Linked DNA regions of Homo sapiens: regions 1, 3 and 4 are each linked to region 2. The links come from fine-mapping of genetic effects on gene expression. A gene starts in region 2. Each other region holds a variant in brackets. All regions are shown on one strand. Distances are from middle to middle.

Region 1 (5,658 bases), 140 kb before region 2:
TGGGACTACAGGCGCCCGCCACCACACCTGGCTAAATTTTTGTATTTTTAGTAGATACAGGGTTTCACCATGTTGGCCAGGCTGGTCTCGAACTCCTAGTCTCAAGGGATCCGCCTGCCTCGGCCTCCCAAAGTGCTGGGATTACAGGGGTGAGCCATCGTGCCCAGCTATGATCATCACTTTCAATTCTGGTCATTAATTTTGTGTGTATCCTTCCAGATTTTATAATATGTATATACATACTCCTCATTTACAAATCTGTCTCCTCCTCCTAGATTACAAACCATATGAGGACAAAGGCAATGTCTTCATTATGCTGGCCCCTCCCAACTCAGTGCTAGCTGTAGTAATAACCAGCACTAGAAATGATGCATTGAAGCGCAGACAATTGAAGAAACTTGCCCACGTTACCCAGAGAAGTGACTGGGCTGGGATTCAAACTCAGGCAGAGCATGCACTTAATACAATTTTAATTGGTCAATAATGAATAAATAGTCATGTTGCAGCAAGTGACATTTGGATTAGATAGAAGAGTTACCCCAAAAAGAGGTCCAGCACATACTATCAAAGTACACATGAGAATGTTTAATGACTTCTACGTGCATCATGGTGGCATACTTCATTCAAAAATTAAGAAAGTATTATTACCATTATTTTTGAGACAGAGTCTTGCTCTGTTGCCCAGGCTAGAGTGCAGTGGTGGGATCTTTGCTCACTGCAGCCTCCGCCTCCCAGGTTCAATCGATTCTTGTACCTCAGCCTCGTGAGTAGCTGGGATTACAGGGGTGCGCCACCACTCCCGGCTAATTTTTGTATTTTTGGTAGAGACGGGGTTTTGCCATGTTGGCCAGGCTGGTCTCTAACTCCTGGCCTCAAGAGATCCACCCACCTTGGCCTCCCAAAGTGCTGAGATTACAGGCGTGAGCCACCACAACCAACAATAACTTATTTTTTCTTATTTTCCCCAATTTTGTTTCTAAGGGAGAGGCGCCTAGCAAAAATGTGTTTTTGCTAAAATCATGTAATGCTGGTTTCTACTGAAGCCCTAAATGATGCCACACCATAGGAATTCTAGTAGTGTAGTATCTGAAGAGATTGCTCATTATCCTGTTTTAAACCATGAATAAGATATGTGCCATTTGTGACGTACTTAAAAAAATAATTTCACTCATTTCCTGTAGGACCTACTACCACCTACAACTGATTTGCATTTTCTTGGATCCATTTCCAACTTCTTGTGCCTGGCACAGAGCTGTGCTCACAATCCTGGTCACACATCTGCTGAATGAATAAACCACAAATGACTTCTACTGACAGCAGTGGATTTCCTTAGAAAGACACTAACAACTTTGGTAGTTCCCCTAACACTCAAAGTGGATGCCTGGGGCTGTTTCAAGAAATCTCTTTTCTTTCTTAACAATAGCCCATGCTCTTTGATAGTTTAGGGCAGAAAGAGCCTTAGGCCAGTGGTTCACGCTTGTAATCCCAGCACTTTTAGGGGCTCAGGCAGGAGGATTGCTTGAGCCCAGTGGTTTGTGATCAGCCGTGCAACATGGTGAGACCCCATCTCTATGAAAAATGGCACACACCTGTAATCTCAGCTACTTGGGAGGCTGAGGCAGGAGATTGCTTGAGCCCAGGAGTTGGAGGAAATGATCATGCCACTGCACTCCAGCCTGGGCAACAGAGACTGTCTCAGGAAAAAAAAAAAAATTAGCATCTCAGTCTTCTTTTCAAAAAAGCAGAGCCAGTTTGTTATTTCCCTCCAATAGACCTCACGTAGGCAAAATTGGATTAACCTTTATCCTTGGTTCCTGCTACTCTGACATTGTTGTTTCATGAATATACTTCTTGTGTTTATTTATTACTCATTTGTTTGTTAATAATATAACAGACATCTCTAAACTCATCACCTAATCCAAGAACCAGAACACTGACAATCCCTTTTATTTACCTCTGTTCTCTTCACTATTCCAGCCCCTTTCTCCCCCATCTGTCTATCCTAAATTTTGTGTTTATAGTTTTGTCACATTTTAAAAATTAAACTTTTTTATTTTGACATATTTGTAGACTCTCTTGCAGTGAAATCCCATGTGCCCTATACTCAGTTTCCCCCAATGGTAAAATCTTGCAAACCTATGTTCTGTATGATAT[G/C]ACAATCAGAAAGGATATTTACATTGATACAGCCAAGACACAAAACGTTTCCATCACCACGAGGATCTCTCCTGTTGCCCTTTCTTAGTCGCAACCACTTCTTGCTCATGCTTTGCCCACCCGCTCCTTTACCCCTGGTGACCACAAATCTGTTCTCCATTTCTGTAATTTGGTCATTTCAAGAACATTATATAAATGTAATCCTACAGCACATAACCTTTTGAGATTGGCTTTTCTTCACAATTCTCTGAGGATTTCATGGAAGTTGTTGCCTGTATCAATAGTTTGCTCCTTTTTTGTTGCTGAGTAGTATTCCATATACGGCAGGGATGTACCACAGTGTGTTTAACCTTGTCAAGGACATCTGGGCTGTTTTCTAGTTCTTGGCTATTACAAATAAAACTGCTATAAACATTTGTGTATCTGGGCATGGTGGCTCATGCTTGTAAGTGCCAGCACTCTGGGAGGCCAAGGCAGGAAGATTTCATCAGCTCAGGAGCTCTAGACCAGCCTGGGCAATATAGTGAGACCTTGTCTCTAATAAATAAATAGATAAATTAGCCACGCACGGTGGTGCATGTCTGTAGACCCAGCTACTCAGGAGGCTGAGGCAGAAGGATTGCTTGATCCTAGGAGGTGGAGGTTTCAGTGAGCCATGATCATACCACTGCACTTCAGCCTGGGCAACACGGTGAGACTCTGTCTCAAAAAAAAATTGGGTACAGAGTTTTGTGTAAACATAAGTCTTCATTTCTTTGGGATAAATGCCCAAGAGTGCAATTGCTGGGACACTTGGTAGTTGAACATTTAGTTTTCTAAGAAACTGCCAATGTGTTTTCCAGAGTGGAGGTATATTTTTAATTCCCACCAGCAATATGTGAGTGATACAATTTCCCTGCATGCTCTCCAGCATTTGATATTGTCATGATTTTTTATTTTATTCATTCTGATAGGTGTGTAATGATATCTTATTATGGTTCTAAATTGCATTTTCCTATTGACTATTAATGTTGAACATCTTTTCAGGTGTTTATTTGTCATCCATATATGCCGTTTCATGAAATGTTTATGTCTTTTGTGCATTTTATAATTATGTTGCTTGCTGTTTTGCAGTTCAGAGTTCTGAGAGGCTTTTTTGTTTTTTTTCAAAGTCTCATTCTTTTGCCCAGGCTGGATTGCAGTGGTGCAATCACGGCTTGCTGTAGCCTCAATCTCCTGGGCTTATGTGATCCTCCCACCTCGGCTTCCCAAGTAGCAAGGACTATAGCTGTGTGCCACCACTCCTGGCTAATTTTGTTTTGTTTTGTTTTGTTTTTTACTTTTTGTAGAGATACAGTCTCTTTATGTTGCCCAGTCTTGAACTCCTGGGTTCAAATAATCCTCCTGCCTTGGCCTCCCAAAGTGTTGGGATTACAGGCATGAGCCACCATGCCTAGCCAAGAGTTATTTATATATTCAAGATACTAATCTTTTGTCAGATACACGGTTTGCAAATATTTTCTCCCACTTTATAGCTTGTCTTTTCATCCTTTTAACAACATCTTTCAAAAGGCAAAATCTTTAATTTTAACGAATCCAATTTATCCATTTTTAAAAATGAATGATGCTTTTGGTGTCAAGTTTAAGAACTCTTTGCTTAGCCCTAGATCCTGAAGATTTTCTCCTAGTTTTTCTAAATGCTTCAGTTATATATTTGATATTTAAGTGTGTGACCCATGTTAATTTTTCCATAAAGCGTGAGACTTAGGTGGATGTTCCTTACTTTTTTTTTTTTTTTTTTTTTGAGACAGGGTCTCACTCTGTTGCCCAGGCTGGAGTGCAGTGGTCCGATTTAGGCTCAAACTGCAACCTCCGCCTCTCGGGTTCAAGCAATTCTCATGCCTCAGCCTCCCACATAGCTGGGATTACAGGCATGCACCACCACACATGGCTAATTTTTGTTTTTTTAGTAGAGACGGGGTTTTGCCATTTTGGCCAGGCTGGTCTTGAACTCCTAGCCTCAAGGGATCTACTGCCTCAGTCTCCCAAGGTGCTGGGATTACAGGCATGAGCCACCAAACCTGGCTGGTTGTTTGTTTCTTTTACCCATGGATGCTCAATTGTTCCAGTACCATTTGTTGAAAAGACTTATCTTTCCTCCTTGAATTGCTTTTGCACCATTGACAGAACTCAGCTGGCCATATTTGTGTGAGTCTACTTCTGGGTTCTCTATTCTGTGTGGTCTTGATCTGTGTGTCTACCTCTCTGCCAATATCCCACAGTCTTCACTATAGCTATATAATAAGTCTTGAAATTGGATAGACTGAGTCTCTCTACTTTCTTCTTTTTCAAGATTGGTTTAGCTATTCTAATTCCTTTGCCTTTCCATATACATTTTAAAATAATCTTGTGTATATGTATTTTGGGATTTTACTTACTTACTGGGATTTTGATAGAAATTACATTAAATATGTGTATAAATCTGGAGCGAATTGGCCAGATTGAGTCTTCCATCCATGGACATGTTGTGTCTCTTCTTTATTTATATGTTTGACATCCTTCATCAATGTTTTGTAGCTTTCAGCAAATAAGTCCTATACATGTTTTGTTAGGTTTACACTCAACCACTTTTTGTTGAGTGATTGCAAATGGTATTGTATTTTTATTTATGTGTCCACATGTTCATTGCTAGTATAGAGAGATACAACTGATTTTTGTAGGTGTATCTTATATCCTGTGACCTTGCTAAACTCATTTGTAAGTTCTAGGAGTTTTTGGTGCATTCCTTGGGATTTTCTGTGTAGACAATCATGTCATCTGCAAATAGGACAGTTTCATTTCTTCCTTTCTGATCTATACAGTTTTTCTTTTATTTTCTTTCCTTATTTCACCAACTAGAATTTCCAGCACTATGTTGAATAAACTTCTGAGAGTGGACATTTTTGCCTCGTTCCAGATCTTAGAGGAGAAAGCATTCCATCTGTTATCATTAAGTATAATAATACTAGCTGTGGGGTTTTTGTAGCTGTCCTTTATCAAATTGAGGAAGTTCCCCTCCATTCCTACTTTTTCTGGGAATTTTTATCATGAATCATTGTTGATTTTGTTTTCAAATGCTTTTTCTGTATCAATTGATATGATCATGTGATTTTTCCTCTCTAGACTATTAATATGGTAGATTACATTGATTTTCAAAAATTTAACCAGACTTCCATTCCTGGAATACACTCTGCTTAGTTATAAATTTTTTTTCTTTTTTGTTTTGAGACAGAGTTTCGCTCTTGTTGCCCAGGCTGGAGTACAATGGCGCGATCTCGGCTCACTGCAACCTCCACCTCCCAAGTTCAAGCGATTCTCCTGCCTCAGCCTCCCGAGTAGCTGGGATTACAGGCATGCGCCACCAAGCCTGGCTAATTTTGTATTTTTTTTTTTTTTTTGGTAGAGATGGGATTTCTCTGTGTTGGTCAGGCTGGTCTCGAGCTCCCAACCTCAGGTGATCCACCCACCTCGGCCTCCCAAAGTGCT
Region 2 (5,658 bases):
AAAGTACTCAGGCTTGGTGGTCAGCCGAGAGAGAGAGAGAGAAGGAAAGAAAGAGAGAGAGAAAGAAAGAAAAGAAAGAAAGAGGCCAGGCTCGGTGGCTCAGGCCTGTAATCCCAGCACTTTGCGAGGCTGAGGCGGGCGGATCACGAGGTCAGGAGTTCAAGACCAGCCTGGCCAATATGGTGAAACCCTGTCTCCACTAAAGAAAAATACAAAAATTAGCCAGGCATGATGGCGCGGGCCTGTAGTTCCAGTTACTCGGGAGGCTGAGGCAGAAGAATCGCTTGAACCTGGGAGGTGGAGGTTGCAGTGAGCCGAGATCGCGCCACTGCACTCCAGCCTGGGTGACAGAGCAAGACTGTCAAAAAAAAAAAGAAAGAAAGAAAATAACCAGAAAAAAAAAGTAAAAATATAGGACATTTTAGGTGAAGGTAAGCACTAGGAAAGAAAGAAAAAAAAAAGCAGGGAAGGGATGTTGGCCGGGGCGGGCGGAGGGGGGGATTTATACAGTTTGGCCAAGGAAGACATTATAATAATGCACTTATTCCTTAGTTTAGAACATGTAGCATTTCACCTGTACCGAGAGATGCCTGATATATTTCATACATGACCAAAATAATAATGTAAGAGGCAATAAAAAAGTGCAGGGTTTTAGGGTTCTAGATATCAGCACATTTTAAGATTAAATGCATGGTAAGAACTTTTGTACTATATACACCTAGTTTGAACTTAAATTTAATAACAAACTCTTTGGAGTCTCTCTCTCTCTCTTTTTTTTTTTTTCCCAAACATAGCTTCCCAAGGAGCAGAAGGGCTGAATTTTCTCTAGTTCCAGGAAGACCGCAAGGCTACTGTGCTCTGGATGTCTCGTTTTTATTTTTTTATTTTTTTATTCTCCAGATCTCAAGACGGTGTCTGGCACATACCATTCAATACAAGTTTGGTACCTGGAACCCACTGAATATGCATGTCCAGTAACTATTAACTACATGTGTTGGTGCAAGGGAGAAGGTCGAGCAACCGGATCTGCTCCATCATAGCCCGTCTCAGTCGCTTCATTCAAGTCAGCGGGGTGAGGTTGAGGGGATTCCAACTTCACAAGGGCAGATTTCTCATGGACTCTCTTTCTCTGGTTGTACTGGAACACTTTCTGGCGTTATTCCTCTGCTGGGACAGCATGAACTTATGAAACGTGGTCCTGTCTGCCCTAAAGCCAGGGTCTCACCGACAAGGACAGCGATGCTGGGGCGAGAAATAAAGTTCGTCCTGGGCCTGCGTACGGTACAGCGCCCTTGGGAAGCCCTTGTGGAGTTAAGGGTGATGCCCACTTCTTTGTCTCCCTCATTCTGTTTCGGTGGCTCTCTCGTTCCCAGTTCCAAGCTGCCCACTTGTTAGAGGAGCCACTGCTTACCAGGCATCTGGTTTAATAAAACATGGCTAGAGCGACTGCATGTTAAAGTGAGTAACTAGGCACTCACAAGGCACCTATAAGGTTAATGCTAAAGGTCTGAAAATAGCCGCATTCTAAGCTGACCAACAATTATAATTACACAATATTTATGGCCATACAGGACATCTCCCACCAAGTCTGCGGAATTGTCCAGATGTCCTGAGTTTTTTTTTTTTTTTTAGACAAGGTCTCACTTTGTCGCCCAGGCTAGGCTGGAGGGCAGTGTGGTGCGATCTCAGCTCACTGCAACCTCCGCCTCCCAGGTTCAAGTAGTTCTCCTGCCTCAGCCTCCTGAGTAGCTGGGACTACAGGCATGCACCACCACGCCTGGCTACTGGCTTTTTTTTTTTTTTTTTTTTTTTTAAATAGATGGCATCTCAGTATGTTGCCCAGGCTGGTCTCGAACTCCTGGGCTCAAGGGAGACTCCTGTCCGGCCTCCCACAGTGCTGGGATTACAGACGTGGCCACCGAGCCCGGCCCAGCCCTCTACTCAGAGATAACGTCAATGCGCAGGCTTAGGTTGAAGGATTAATGGTCATTAGTGCACCAACAGCCCCTACCTTTAGTGGGCACATCAGCACATTCCACGATTAATCACAGCTCCTCACAGCTGCCTCTAAGTAGTGACACTACCGAAGGACGGGAGTTCCTCCTCCTGCAGTCTGAGGACTTGCACTCTCTAACGGAGTAGATTCCAATAAACTTGCTTCCTTCACTGCGCTCTGTGACTCGCCTCCAATTCTTCCCTGAAGTAGACCCAAGAACCCTCTCTTGGGGTCTGGATCGAGACCCCTTTTTCCAGCAACACAACCCGCGGGGCCGCCTCCCGCCCACCCTCAGGTGCAGGAGACCCCGGGCCATGCATCCTTCCGGGCAGGAAAATGTCAGCCAGCGCTCGCCGGCCGCTTTCCTCCCCCGCCTCCCGAAGTTCTCGCCCGGTAGCTCCCCGACTGGCTCTCGCGCCGGACAAAGGCGCACGCTGATTGGCCGGAGGGCCGTAGTCATGCAGGACGCGCGACTCTAGGGGCGGGACCAGACAAGGGGTGACTGCCGCGCGGCGCGGGGGAGGAGACCTTCATCTGTTCACGCGGTAGCGCGGATTGCGGTTCGCGGCGCGCGCCACCGGGGAAGGAGCGGTGGGCCGAGGGGTTGGAGGTGGGGCCCCAGGAGGACCTCGGGCTGTGGGCCGGGAGAGCGGAGTCGGGGAGTGGGGCGGGGGAGCGAGGTGGCGCCGGGGAGCCTGGGATATGGCGCGGCCAGACGATGAGGAGGGGGCGGCGGTGGCGCCCGGACACCCGCTCGCGAAAGGATACCTCCCGTTGCCGAGGGGCGCGCCCGTTGGGAAGGAGAGCGTGGAGCTGCAGAACGGGCCCAAAGCGGGCACCTTCCCGGTGAATGGGGCCCCCCGGGACAGCCTCGCTGCCGCCTCGGGAGTTCTGGGCGGGCCTCAGACTCCACTGGCCCCAGAAGAGGAGACCCAGGCCCGGCTGCTGCCTGCGGGCGCGGGAGCTGAGACCCCGGGGGCCGAGAGCAGCCCGCTGCCCCTTACGGCGCTCTCCCCGCGGCGCTTCGTGGTGCTCCTGATCTTCAGCCTGTACTCGCTGGTCAACGCCTTTCAGTGGATCCAGTACAGCATCATTAGCAACGTCTTCGAGGGCTTCTACGGTGTCACCTTGCTGCACATCGACTGGCTGTCCATGGTGTACATGCTGGCCTACGTGCCCCTCATCTTCCCGGCCACCTGGCTGCTGGACACCAGAGGCCTGCGGCTCACCGCCCTGCTGGGCTCCGGCCTCAACTGCCTGGGTGCCTGGATCAAGTGCGGCAGTGTGCAGCAGCATCTCTTCTGGGTCACCATGTTGGGCCAGTGCTTGTGCTCGGTGGCCCAGGTGTTCATCCTGGGCTTGCCCTCCCGCATCGCCTCAGTGTGGTTTGGGCCCAAAGAGGTGTCCACAGCTTGTGCCACCGCCGTGCTGGGCAATCAGGTAAGTACTGGAGTGGTAGGTGAAAGTCAGATCCTTAAAAGACCGGAAAAAGTCATAGGCCGTGAGAACTATGGCCTGTATGGATGAACTGCCCCAGGAGGTATTTGTCTATAAAAGAGGAGATGAAGCCGTTGAATAGGAGGCCGTCTTGGATTGAAGTGGGCTATAAATTTCTTTGTAAGGACAAAATTTTCCAAACGACCTTGTCATCTTGCTTTGAAAATTACCTATAAAATAATTAACTGGGCCGGGCGCGGTGGCACACACCTGTAATCCCAGCACTTTGGGAGGCCGAGGTGGGTGGATCACTTCAAGTCAGGAGTTCCAGACCAGCCTGGGCAACATGGGGAAACCCCGTCTCTGTTAAAAATACAGAAATTAGCCAGGCCTGCTTGCGGGTATCTGTAGTCCCAGCAACTCAGGAGGCTGAGGCAGGAGAATCTCTTGAACCCGGGAGGTGGAGGTTGCAGTGAGCGGAGATTGCACCTTTGCACTCCAGCTTGGGTGACAGAGTGAGACTCTGTCTCAAATAATAATAATAAACTGTAACCATAATAATAATAATAATAATTAACTGTATTGGCTTGTGTATGCCTAACATGGAAAATTTGTCAATGCAGTAACGAACAAGACTTGGGGTATTATTTTTGTCACCAGTGTATTTGTGAAAGGAAGGTATTGGGTTCTGGGAAGATTGTTTCCATTTTGAGAGGTCATTGTGAACAGCTCCCTTTTAATTTCATATATTAGCAGTCAGCACAGTTCCTGGCACATAAGGGACACATAAATGACTGCTAACCAAAAGTTCTGGGCTGGGCGTGGTGGCTCACGCCTGTAATCTCAGCACTTTGGGAGGCTGAGGCAGGCGGATCACTTGAGGCCAGGAGTCTGAGACCAGCCTGGCCAACATGGCAAAACCAAATACACAAAAATTAGTGGGGCATGGTGTGGTGCATGCCTGTAATTCCAGCTACTCAGGTGGCCAAGGCATGAGAATCTACATGCTTATTGCTTTATAGTCATTTCCCTTATCTAAAAGTACAGAAGATGGAGTAGGTTGAACTATAGTTGTTTGTCCAAAATAATTTATGACTGATACTTGAGTTGGTTGCATCTGCAGGTTTGGACAGAAGCTATTATAAAGTTTTTTGTGTGTGTGGTTTTTTTTTTTTTTTTTTGTAGAAATGGGGTTTCTCCATGTTGCTCATGCTTGTCTCGAACTGCTGAGCTCAAGCTCTCTGCCCACCTCTGCCTCCCGAAGTGCTGGGATTACAGGTGTGAACCACCACGCCCGGCCATGATTACATTTTCTTTGTCACACATCTCTCAGTTTAAATTCATTTTTAAATATTCAGTAGCATTTCTTGATCCCATTTAGAGTTGCCCAGTCACTCTCTTTACATTATTTTACTTTAATTCTCCTTATAGCACTCATCCCTGTCTCATATGTTATTGTTTACATGTTCATATGTTACTTACCTATTACTTTTCTCTTATCCCCACCATTAGATTGTAAGTTTCATGAAAATAGGAATGTGGTCTGAATGTACACAGCTGTATCACCAGCATTTATTACTCTCCATAAAACCATGTTGAATAAATAAAGGAGCTTCAGACTCATACAGATACTGGCCAGCTGGATAGTCTACTTGGATATCTCATGGGAACACACCACTCAAAATTGCTTTCTCCTTGCTCATTTCCCTTTATCTCTAATGCCACTGTCTTGGTTTGGGCCACCCACAGCTCTCACCTAGAGCTTGCTAACTGTCCTCCCTATCTGTAGCCCTTGCTGTCTTCCCTCTGTTCTCGCATTCATCCAGCGTGGTCTTTTACAATGTGCAAATCTGTTCCGGGCACATCCTTACCCCCTGCAGTGGCTTCCATTGTCCTTAGGATAAAATTCAAACACTCTAGTGTGACATATGGGACCCTCCAGATCTGCCTCCTGCCAGCCCTTCCACTTTATCTGTATGCACAACCCCTGTCCCCACAGACATATGCTTTCTCTGCTCTGTGCAGAACTATGCCTACTTATAGTTTCTCACAAGGTCGTGCCCTTTCCCTCCTGGCCTTGTATGTAATGTCCTGTTGGCTTGGAATATTTCTTCACTTGACTAACTCCAATTTCTTATTCAGATCTTTGCTCCTCCAGGAACTTTTTCTGAACCCCATTTCTTTTCATTCTTTTTGATAGCTGAATAATATTTCTATATAAGGTG
Region 3 (5,658 bases), 28 kb before region 2:
CAGGAGCCTCATGTCTTCTGCAGGTGCCCATGACAGCTGTGCCAGGATAATCCTTTAGTTATTAACACTAGGTATTTGCTTTAAAACAAACAAACAAAAACAGGCCGGATGAAGTGGCTCATGCCTGTAATCCCAGCACTTTGGGAGGCTGAGGAGGGCGGATTGCTTGAGGCCAGGAGTTCACGACCAGCAACATGGCGAAACCCCATCTCTACTAAAAATACAAAAATTAGCCAGGCATACACTTGTCATCCCAGCTACTCAGGAGGCTGAGGTGGGAGAATCATCTGAGACCGGGAAGTCCAGCTGCAGTGAGCCATGATCATGCCACTGCACTCAAGCCTGGGTGACAGAATGAGACCCTGTGTCAAAAAAAAAAAAGGCAGACTTTCACCATGTTGCACAGGGTGGAGGGCAGTGGCTATTCACAGCCATGATCCTGGCACACTACAGCCTTGAACTCCTGGACTCAAGTGATCTCTCACTCCAGCCTCCTGAGTAGCTGGGACTATAGGTATCTGCCACCACTGCCTGGCTAGGTATTTGCCTTTTGGGAAGTGAAAAATTAGCTGTAGTTCTGTGTCGTTTGTTTTTATTATTTTTAACATTTTCTCATGGTTGATGAGTCTTATCCACACTGTGCCCTACTATATAGTCCTGACTGACATAGGGTTTTAAGCCAGCTGGCTTATCCATATCCCTTCTAATATCAGAATGCTTTGGCTCTCTATGAATCTGAGCTTCCTGTGGAAGTAGAGGGCAACCAAATAAAAAGTGAATGTCTTATTGAAATAAATACAAATGCCAAGAAGCTCTGGGTTCCAGGCCAGGCAGTGCTCTGCTTGGCATATGGACTAGGTTCTTAACCACACAAAGGAACATAAGCCAAGTTAAGATCTGAAGAGGCTCATGCCTGTAATCCCAGCACTTTGTGGGGCTGAGGCGGGCAGATCACCTGAGGTCAGGAGTTCGAGACCAGCCTGGGCAACATGGTGAAACCCTGTCTCTACTAAAAATACAAAAATTAACCTGGCATAGTGGCACACACCTGTAGTCCCAGCTACTCAGGAGGCTGAGATGAGAATTGCTTGAACCTGGAAAGCAGATGTTGCAGTGAGCCAAATCACACTGCTGCACCCCAGCCTGGGCAACAGACCAAGACTCCGTCTAAAAAAAAAAAAGTGATTTGAAGAGACTGTGATCCAAGAAGCAATGAAACGGAGGTGATAGTAGCCAAATAGGATGTGGCCATGAGATAATTCTAACCATCACCACTGTGGGGATGGACAACGTAATGTAACAGAAAGCCCTGTCTACAGGCACCTTATATTAGCCTCTCAAATATCTCCTTATTCAAATAATCAAAACCATAACTTTAACAGAGGAAGTTAATCTATCATTTATAAGCAAGTGTTAACTTTTTAGCCTTCAACCTGATCAGTGGGGTTGGTCAATATATTCCATTGAGTTATAGAAACAAATATAAACTATTATTTAAACATTTTAGATTACTAAGGAGAAGATTGCCTGGGCATGGTGGCTCACACCTGTAATCCCAGCACTCTGGGATGCCAAGGCGAGTGGATCACCTGAGGTCAGGAGTTCAAGACCAGCCTGACCAACATGGTGAAATGTCATCTCTACTAAAAATACAAAAATTAGCTGGGTGTGGTGGCGTGCGCCTGTAGTCCCAGCTTCTCAGGAGGCTGAGACAGGAGAATAGCTTAAACCCAGGAGGTGGAGATTGCAGTGAGCTGAGATCATGCCACTGCATTCCAGCCCGGGGAACAGAGCAAGATTCTGTCTCAAAAAAAAAAAAAAAAAAAAGGGATCACTGTAAACTAAACTCTTAGGTATTCATGTTTGAAAGTAACTAAAAAACTCAAATCCTCTCTTCAAATCATCTAAGTTTAAATGATAGAATGGAATGAATAAAGATATGTTTTATGTGACTTAATGTTTTTTGAGGGATCTAGTGAATACTTTTGTTTAGCTTTGTTTATAATTAATAATTTGTAAATAATTTAGACACACTGAAGAAGAATCAAAGAGAATGTATTTCCGTGTGTCTCTGGAGATGCACTTTATCCAAATATGGCATTATCTGAAAAAATAAAAAATAAAAAGTATTTGTTATATAACTTATAACACATTTCATGGTTTTTAAAATAACCCTGGAGGGCAGAGTATTGTTTTTCAGATACAGGAACTAAGGTTTAGAAACACCAAATGGGCCGGGTGCGGTGGCTCACACCTGTAATCCCAGCACTTTGGGAAGCCGAGGTGGGCGGATCACGAGGTCAGGAGATCGAGACCATCCTGGCCAAGATGGTGAAACCCCATCTCTACTAAAAAAATACAAAAATTAGCCGGGCGTCGTGGCGCGCTCCTGTAGTCCCAGCTACTCAGGAGGCTGAGACAAGAGAATCGGTTGAACCCAGGAGGCGGAACGTGCAGTGAGCCGAGATCACACCACTGCACTCCAGCCTGGGCGAAAGAGCAAGACTCCGACTCCAAAAAAAAAAAAAGAAACACCAAATGGCGGCCAGGCGCTGTGGCTCACGCCTGTAATCCCAGCACTTTGAGAGACTGAGGTGGGCGGATCACGAGGTCAAGAGATGGAGACCATCCTGGCCAACATGTTGAAACCCCCATCTCTACTAAAAAGACAAAAATTAGCTGGGTGTGGTGGGATGCGCCTGTAGTCCTAGCTACTCAGGAGGCTGAGGCAGGAGAAATCAGTTGAACCCGGGAGGTGGAGGTTGCAGTGAGCCGAGATCGCAACACTGCATTCCAGCCTGGTGACAGAGCAAGAAAAAATCTCAAAAAAAATTAGCTGGGTGTGGTGGTGCACACCTGTAATCCCAGCTACTCT[G/A]GAGGCTGAGGCAGGAGAATCGCTTGAACCCCGGGCAGCAGAGGTTGCAGTGAGCCAAGATCGAGCCACTGCACTACAGCCTGTGACAAAGTGACAGAGTGAGACTCCGTCTCAATAAATTAAAAAAAAAAAAAGAAAGAAAGAAACACCAAATGGTTGGGCACGGTGGCTCACGCCTGTAATCCCAGCGCTTTGGGAGGCTGAGGCAGGCAGATTGCTTGAGGTCAAGAATTTGAGACCAACCTGGGCAACATGGCAAAATCCAGACTCTATTAAAAAAATACAAAAGTTAGCCAAGCATGGTGGCACATGCCTATAGTCCCAGCTACTCGGGAGGCTGAGAGGTAGGAGGATCGCTCGAGCCCAGGAGGTTGAGGATACAGTGAGCTATGATCACACCACTGCGCTCCAGCCCCAGTGACAGAGCAAGACTCTGCCTCTAAAAAAAAAAAAAAAAACCTCAAATTACTAAAAGCATGATACTAGTCAATGACAGAGGCAAAACTTGAACCCAGGTGTTTTTAATTCTATATATTTAAATAAACTGCCCCCCTTTTGGGCTCCACATCTCCAAGTGGAAGATTGAAAAGAGGGCCTGGAAATCTCGGACTAAGAGAACTTCTTTCCTAGTCTTCACGTCACTATTAATAGAAGCAAAGAGGATCACCCAGAACTCCAAATACTCTATGCAAAATCTGTAACATTACTTCCCCTCAACACACAGGCCTCCCCACCAGGTTAGACCACCGCTAGGTTCGACCATCAGGACTAATCTCATTCTGTCCCTTATCCCTGTTTACACTGGACTCCTCAAGGAACCCAGGAGTCCTGGGTCATCCCTCATGCCCTGGATAGTAATCCCCATATAGTTATATGGGCAGCAATACACCCTCCATCCAACACTTCCTATCCCCCACCCTGCTGTTTTCTGTTTCCCCATAGCTCTTACCCATTTATCACTATCTGATCGGACATTTACTTCCTTTTTTTTTTTTTTTTTTTTGAGACGGAGTTTCGCTCTTGTTGCCCAGGCTGTAGTGCAGTGGCGCGATCTCTGCTCACTGCAACCTCCTCCTCCCGGATTCCAGTGATTCTTCTGCCTCAGCCTCCAGAGTAGCTAGGATTACAGGCATGCACCACCATGCCCAGCTAATTTTTGTGGGGTTTCACCATGTTGGTCAGGCTGGTCTCGAACTCCTGACCTCAGGTGATCCACTCGCCTCGGCCTCCCAAAATGCTGGGATTACAGGCGTGAGCCACTGTGCCCGGCTGAAATGTACTATTTTTTAACTTGTTTATCTGGCTCTCTACCCAGTGAAATCTAAGCTTTTTTTTTTTTTTTTTTTTTTTTTTAGAAATAGAGAAGAGGTCTCTCTATGTTGCCCAGGCTACTCTCAAACTCCTGGGCTCAAGGGATCCTCCTGCCTCAGCCTACCAAAGTGCTAGGATTACAGGCATGAGCCAGCACACCAAAACCTAAGCTTTTTGAGGCAAGATTTTATTCATCACTGTATTGACAAGCACGTAGAAGAGTGCCTGACATCAAGTAAGCACTGATATATATTCGTTGAATGAATAAAGAGTAAATGAGTGTTTCTTCCTCTTGCACAGGTATGCAAAGGAAAGGAGTACAGTGCCTTCCAATTCGTATTGAATATGTCCAGCAAAATTACTGTATTATTACCCTCCTGCATTTCTAAAGATTATTCCACAGCAACCAACTAAGGTTGCTGTGAGAAACTCTTAGGTTTGTGAGCCATTGCCCAAGGACATAGCTATTGGTCTCGAGAGGAATGAGGTAAGTTCTACCACTACTTCTGGGAAAGTATATTCCATGTCCCAACATTTATTCAATCAGCCAGGAAACGTTTCCTGAGTTCCTAATTTGTGCCAGACACTGTTCTAGGGACTGAAGATAAAGTGGTGAAAAAAGCAGATACCATCCCTGCCTTCAAGGAGCCTAGCCTTCATTAGGGAGTGATAAACACTGTGGTAAAAAAGAAAGCTGGGTAAGGGATTATAGAGTGTTGAGGAGTGCTGCTTAGATAGGGTGGTTTCTTTTGTTTATTTTTAATTTCAGTAGTTTTTGGGGTAAAGGTAGGTTTTGGTTACATGGGTAAGTTCTTCAGCGGTGATTTCTGAGATTTTGGTGCACCCATCAACCGAGCATATAGTCTTTTATTCCTTGCCCCTCTTTTACCTTTCTTTCCCTTGGGGTTCCTAAAGTCCATTATATAATTCCTATGCCTTTGCATCCTCATAGCTTAGCTCCCACTTATAAGTGAGAACAGACAATATTTGGTTTTCCATTCCTGAGTCACTTCACTTAGAATAATGGCCTCCTGGCCGGGCTCAGTGGCTCAAGCCTATAATCCCAGCACTTTGGGAGGCCGAGATGGGTGGATCACTTGAAGCCAGGAGTTTGAAACCAGTCTGGCCAACATGACGAAACCCCATCTCTACTAAAATACAAAAAAAAAAAAAAAAAAAAATTAGCCAGGCGTGGTGGCAGGCAATCCCAGCTACTTGGGAGGCTGAAGCACTTGAACCTGGGGGCAGAGGTTGCAGTGAGCTGAGATCACGTCATTGCACTTCAGCCTGGGTGACAGAGAGACTCAGCTTTCACAGAATTGAAGAGAGTTGGGGCCTTGCTCTGGGTTAGGCTTTGACTTAAGGAAATGTTGTGGCTGGGTTCATCTGTCCAGATCACTGAAACTTTCTCCCTATCAGCAATAAGGCTGTTTTGCTTTCTTATCATTTGTGTGTTCACTAAAGGGAATTTT
Region 4 (5,658 bases), 46 kb after region 2:
CCCCATAGGCTATCAGATTTCTCAGCAGAAACCTTGCAGGCCAAGAAGAGTAGGATGATATATTCAAAATGCTGAAATTTAAAAAAGAAAAATAAACTGCTAACCAAGAATACTTTACCTGATAAATCTGTCCTTCAGAAAAGGAAAGATTAACTTTCCCAGACAAATAAAAACTGAGGGAGTTAAATCACCACCAGACCTACCTTGCGAGAAATGCTAAGTGGAGTTCTTCAAGCTGAAACAAAAGTATGCTAATTTTAATGCTAATATGAAAACATAAAAAGGTATAAAACTCACTGGTAAAGATACGTATATAGTCAAAATCAGAATATTCTAATACTGCAGTGGTTATGTGTAAATCATTTTAACTCGTGTATAGGCTAAAATAAAAATATTAAAAATAACTAGCTTTGGTAATTCATTAATTGATACACAATATAAAAGGATGAATATTGTGACAGCAAAAGCATAAAATGGCGTATAAAAGTGTAGAGTTTTTGTGTGTGAACAAAGTTAAGTTGCTATCAGCTTAAAATAGACAATAAGATGTTTTATGTAAGCCTGTTTTAACCACAAAGCAGAAACCCGTAGTAGACACACACAGATAAAGAGAAAGGGATCTAAGTATACTACTAAGGAAAATCATCTAATCACAAAAGACAGCAAGAGAGGAAGAAAAGGACAAAGGATCTTTAAAACCGCCAGAAAACAACAAAATGCCTGTAAGTTCTTACCTGTCAATAATTACTTTAAATGTAAATGGGTTAAATTATCCAATCATAGACATAGATTGGCTAAATGGATTTAAAAACCAAACTGTATGCTGCTTACCAGAGTCACTTTAGCTTTAAAGATATACATAGGCCGTAAAGGGATGGAAAGAGAGAATCCATACAAATGGAAACAGAAATAGAGCAGGGTAGCTTTATTTATTTATTTATTTTTGAGACAGAGTCTCACTCCACCCAGGCTGGAGTGTAGTGGCATGATCTCAGCTCACTGCAACCTCCACCTCCTGGGTTCTTGTGATTCTCATGCTTCATCCTCCCAAGTAGTGGGGATTACAGGTGTGCACCACCACACCCATCTAATTTTTGTATTTTTAGGAAATGGAGTTTCACTGTGTTGGCCAGGCTGGTCCTGAATGCCTGACCTCAGGTGATCTGCCTGCCTTGGCCTCCCAAATGTTGGGATTACAGTTGTGAGCCACTGCACCTGGCCAGGGTAGCTATATTTAAATCAGACAAAATGGACTTTAAGTAAAAACTTTGGCCAGGCATGGTGGCTCACGCCTGTAATCCCAGCACTTTGGGAGGCCAAGGCAGGTGGGTTACCTGAGGTCAGGAGTTCGAGACCAGCCTGACCAATATGGTGAAACCCCATCTCTACTAAAAATACAAAAATTAGCTGGGCGTGGTGGCAGACGCCTGTAATCCCAGTTACTCAGGAGGCTGAGGCAGGAGAATCGCTTGAGCCTGGGAAACAGAGGTTGCAGTGAGCTGAGATCGTGCAACTGCACTCCAGCCTGGCCAACAGAGTGAGACTCTTGTCAAAAAACAAACAAAAAAAACACCTAAAAAACTTTAACAAGGGACAAAGAAGACTATTATATAATGATAATGGAGTCAATTTTTTTTTTTTTTTTTTTTGAGACAGAGTCTCGCTCTGTCGCCAGGCTGGAGTGCAGTGGTGTGATCTCGGCTCACTGCAACCTCCGCCTCCCAGGTTCAAGCAATTCCCCCTGCCTCAGCCTCCCAAGTAGCCAGTACTATAGGCCTGCACCACCATGGCCAGCTAATTTTTTGTATTTTAGTAGAGACGGGGTTTCACCACATTGGCCAGGATGGTCTCGATCTCCTGACCTCATGATCCGCCCACCTTGGCCTCCCAAAGTGCTGGGATTACAGACATGAGCCACTGTGCCTGGCCTTAATGGGGTCAATTATTTAAGAGGATCCAACAAGTTGTGTGTGCATGTGTGTGTGTGTGCCAACAGTGGACTACCTAAAATTATGCAAAGCAAATATTAACAGATCTGAAAGGAGAAATAGCAGTAGAATTAATAGGGGATTTCAGTACCCCACTTGCAACAATTGATAGAACATCCAGCCAAAATCAATAAGGAAACATTGGATTTGAATTACACCTTAGACCACATGGACTTAATGGACATATATTGAATATTCCATCCAATAGCAACAGAGTACACATTTTCCTCAAGTACACATGGAACATTCTCCAGGATGGGTCATATGTTAGGCCCAAAAGAATGTCTTTAAAATACATTTAAATAAGAAATACAATTGAAATAATCATATATTCCTTAAGACATAATATCATATTAAGCAACTTCTCTGATGCTTACAATGATAGGAAATTACACAATTACATATTATTTCACAATGATATGAAATTACCCACCAATAGAAAGAAAACTGGAAAATTCAAAAATATGTAGAAATTAAACAACAGATTCTGAACAACTAGTGAGTCGAAGAAATCAAACAGGAAATCAAAAAATATTTTGGGACAAATGAAAATAGAAATACTTTCTATTTCCATTACCATATCAAAACTGATGGAATGCAGCAAAAACAGTTCAAGGAGGGAAATTATAACAATAAATGGCCACATGAAGAAATATCTTAAATAAATCACCTAACTTTACACCTGAAGGAACTAGACAAAGAAGAACAAATTAAGCCCAAAATTAGTAGAAGGAAGTAAATGACAAAGATGAGAACAGAAATAAATGAAATATAGACTAGAAAAATAATAGAAAAGATCAGTGAAACTAGGAGTTGTATTTTTTGAAAAGAAAAACAAAATTGATGAACCTTAGAGTAAGAAAAAGAGAAGTCTCAAATGAAATTGTAAATGAAAGAGGAGATATTACAACTGATACCACAGAAATACAAAGAATCATGAGACTATTATGAACAATTGTACTTCAACAAACTGGATAACCTAGAAATTGATAAATTTCTATAAACATACAACCTACCAAGACTGAGTCATGAAGAGATAGAAAATCTGAGTATACCAATAACAAGTAAGTAGATTGTATCAGTAATCAAAAATTGTCCGTAGAAGAAAAACCAAAGTCCCAGTGGCTTCACTGGTGAATTCTACCACACATTCAAAGAAAATAATACTAGTCCTTCTTAAAGTGTTCCATAAAATTTCAGAGGACGAACACTTCCAAACTAATTGTCAGCATTACCCTGATACCAAAACCAGTCAAGGACATTATAGAAAATAAAATTACAGGCCAGTATCCCTGATCCTCCACAAAATACTAGCAAACCAAATTTAACAACACATTAAAAGGATCATACACTATGATCAAATGGGATTTATCCC[A/T]GGGATATAAGGATGGTTCAACATATACAATTCAATAAATGTGATATACTATAAGGGTAAAAATTATATAGTCACCTCAATAGATGCAGAAAAAGTATTTGACAAAATTCAACACCCTTTCATGATAAAACCTCAAAAAAAAAAAAAGACATAGAAGGAGCTTAACCTCAACACAATAAAGATCATTTATGAAAAGCCCACAGCTAACATTATACTCAATGGTGAAAAAGCTGAAATCTCTTCCTCTAAGATCCAGAACAAGGCAAGGAGGTCCACTCTTACCACTTCTATTTAGTAGGACTGGAAGTTCTAACATGAGTAATTAGATAAGAAAAAGAAATAAAAGGCATCCAGACCTGAAAGGAAGAATTAAAATTGTGTGCAGATAACATGATCTTATGTATAAAAATCTCTAGAGATTCTATGAAAAAACATTTAAAAATAAATTCAGGAAAGTTGCTGGATACAAAATCAACATATGAAAACAGTTGCATTTCTATATACTAATGAACTATCTGAAAAACTAAGCAAAAAATTTCATTTACAATAAGATCAAAAAGAATAAAGTACTCAGAAATAAGTTTAATCAAGGAGGTGAAAAATCTGTACAATGAAAACTATAATGCATTGATGCAAGAAATTGAAGACAAATTAATGGGAAGATATCCCAAGTACATGGATCAGAAGAATCAATATTGTCAAAATGTCCAACTACCCAAAGCAACCTTAAGATTAAACACAATTTCTCTCAAAATTCCAATCGCATTTTTCATAAAAATAGAACAATCTTAAAATTTGTGTGGAACCTCAAGAGAACTTGAATAGCTAAAGCAAACTTGAGAAAGATCAAAGTTGTATCACACTTCCTGATTTCAAATTATATTACAAAGTTACTGTAATCAAAACGGCATGATACTCTCATAAAAACAAACTAGGCCAATGGAACAGAAAGCCCAGAAATAAACTCATACATACACTGTCAATTAATCTGTGACAAGAATACACAATGTGGAAGGGATAGTCTTCAATAGATACTGTTGGGAAACCTGGATAACCACATGCAAAAAAAAAAAAAAAATGAAATTGGATTCTTATCTTACATCATACACAAACATCAACTCAAATGGATTAAAGACAGGGCAGGTGTGGTGGCTCATGCCTGTAATCCCAGCACTTTGGGAGGCCGTGGTGGAAGGATCACTTGAGTTAGGAGTTTGAGGACAGCTTGGGCAACATAGTAAGACCTCGCCTCTACCAAAAAAAATTTAAAAATTAGCCAGGTATGGTGGCACACGCCTGTGGTCTCAGCTACTCAGGAAAGCTGAGTTGGAAGAATCTCATGAGCCCAGGAGGTTGAAGCTGCAGTAAGCCGAGATTGCACCACTGCACTCCAGCCTGAGTGACAGAATGAGACCTTATCTCAATAACAACAACAACAACAACAAAGACTTAAATATAAGACCTGAAATCATAAAATGTAAGGAGGAAACATAGGCATTGATGAGCAATGATTTTTTTTTAATATGACACCAAAAACAGAGACAGCAAAAGCAAACATAAACAAGTGGGACTAAACTTTTAGCGTAGAACAGCAATTTTGCCCGCCACCACTTTTGCACCATCATTGCAAATGTCAACATAGTGAAAAAGGTATATAACTTCTTTGTATTATTATGAAAAGAGTTTGGACATTATGGATTCCCTGAAAAGGGTCTTGCTTCTAGAAAGGAGAAACTGGCTATCACTACATTGATCAATGATTCACAATGCCAGAATATGGAGAGAATAAAGAGTAAGGGAGGATCAAGGATCAAAGGCCTCTAATTAAAGGAGGTAGGTGGAACATAAAGAGTTAGTGGAGACAAAGAAGGAGCCTAAGGGAAAGACAGGCAGAAGATTTAGGGTGGTTTTATTAATGAGACCAAAGAGAAGAGAATTGGTAGCTGCAAAGCAAGATACTACCTCTGTGTAAACGAAGAGTTATAAAAAGCTGCTACTACCATCTGTTGTCATGCCATTTAAATTATAATTAGTATGATATTTCAGGATAAAGTTTCCAGCATTATTTAGTTTTACAAACAGCTAAATATTTGAGGCAAAAGCCATGAAACTGTTTAAAATATAAAATAATAACATGGCATTTTATCTGTTACCGGCTACCCTATAAGAAATAGGAACTTTAAAATCTAAGACCTTTCTCAGATCCCATTCAGAATCACTAAAATTTACATTTAGATTTTCAGTGGGAAAAACTACTTCCATCCAGAAAAAAAGATACTCTTTATTTTCAATAGC

Alleles and levels. Positions count from the first base shown, and alleles are read on the strand shown. Sizes are in standard deviations (SD) of each study's normalised expression. Not every link is listed here.
For the expression in putamen of the gene that starts at base 2,521 in region 2, A is the low allele of the variant in region 4 and T is the other (moderate effect, 0.61 SD a copy in GTEx).

Evidence for each region. PIP is the estimated chance that this variant, and not a neighbour inherited with it, causes the effect.
Region 1: its variant is fine-mapped to the expression of FLVCR1 in whole blood (TOPMed, PIP above 0.99).
Region 3: its variant is fine-mapped to the expression of FLVCR1 in whole blood (INTERVAL, PIP above 0.99).
Region 4: its variant is fine-mapped to the expression of FLVCR1 in putamen (GTEx, PIP above 0.99). The same link has a PIP of 0.9 or more in caudate, cerebral cortex, nucleus accumbens and subcutaneous fat.

The regions. Positions count from the first base shown.
Region 1 is chr1:212,711,447-212,717,104 of GRCh38, forward strand. No RefSeq gene overlaps it. Among named protein-coding and RNA genes, the nearest start is that of BATF3, 14 kb to the left of the region's middle. RefSeq lists an enhancer at 1,099-1,652. The variant G/C (reference allele first, on the strand shown) is at 2,155.
Region 2 is chr1:212,855,755-212,861,412 of GRCh38, forward strand. FLVCR1 (FLVCR choline and heme transporter 1) reads left to right here and starts at 2,521. Exons shown (of 10, transcript NM_014053.4): 1 at 2,521-3,436. The coding sequence starts at 2,699. It overlaps FLVCR1-DT (FLVCR1 divergent transcript), which reads right to left and starts at 2,384. Exons shown (of 2, transcript NR_027286.1): 1 at 2,012-2,384; 2 at 850-1,164. RefSeq lists silencers at 2,622-2,681, 2,762-2,971.
Region 3 is chr1:212,828,158-212,833,815 of GRCh38, forward strand. SPATA45 (spermatogenesis associated 45) reads right to left here. Exons shown (of 3, transcript NM_001024601.3): 3 at 1,984-2,104. The coding sequence ends at 2,085. Among named protein-coding and RNA genes, the nearest start is that of SPATA45, 17 kb to the right of the region's middle. The variant G/A (reference allele first, on the strand shown) is at 2,876.
Region 4 is chr1:212,901,476-212,907,133 of GRCh38, forward strand. No RefSeq gene overlaps it. Among named protein-coding and RNA genes, the nearest start is that of FLVCR1, 46 kb to the left of the region's middle. The variant A/T (reference allele first, on the strand shown) is at 3,364.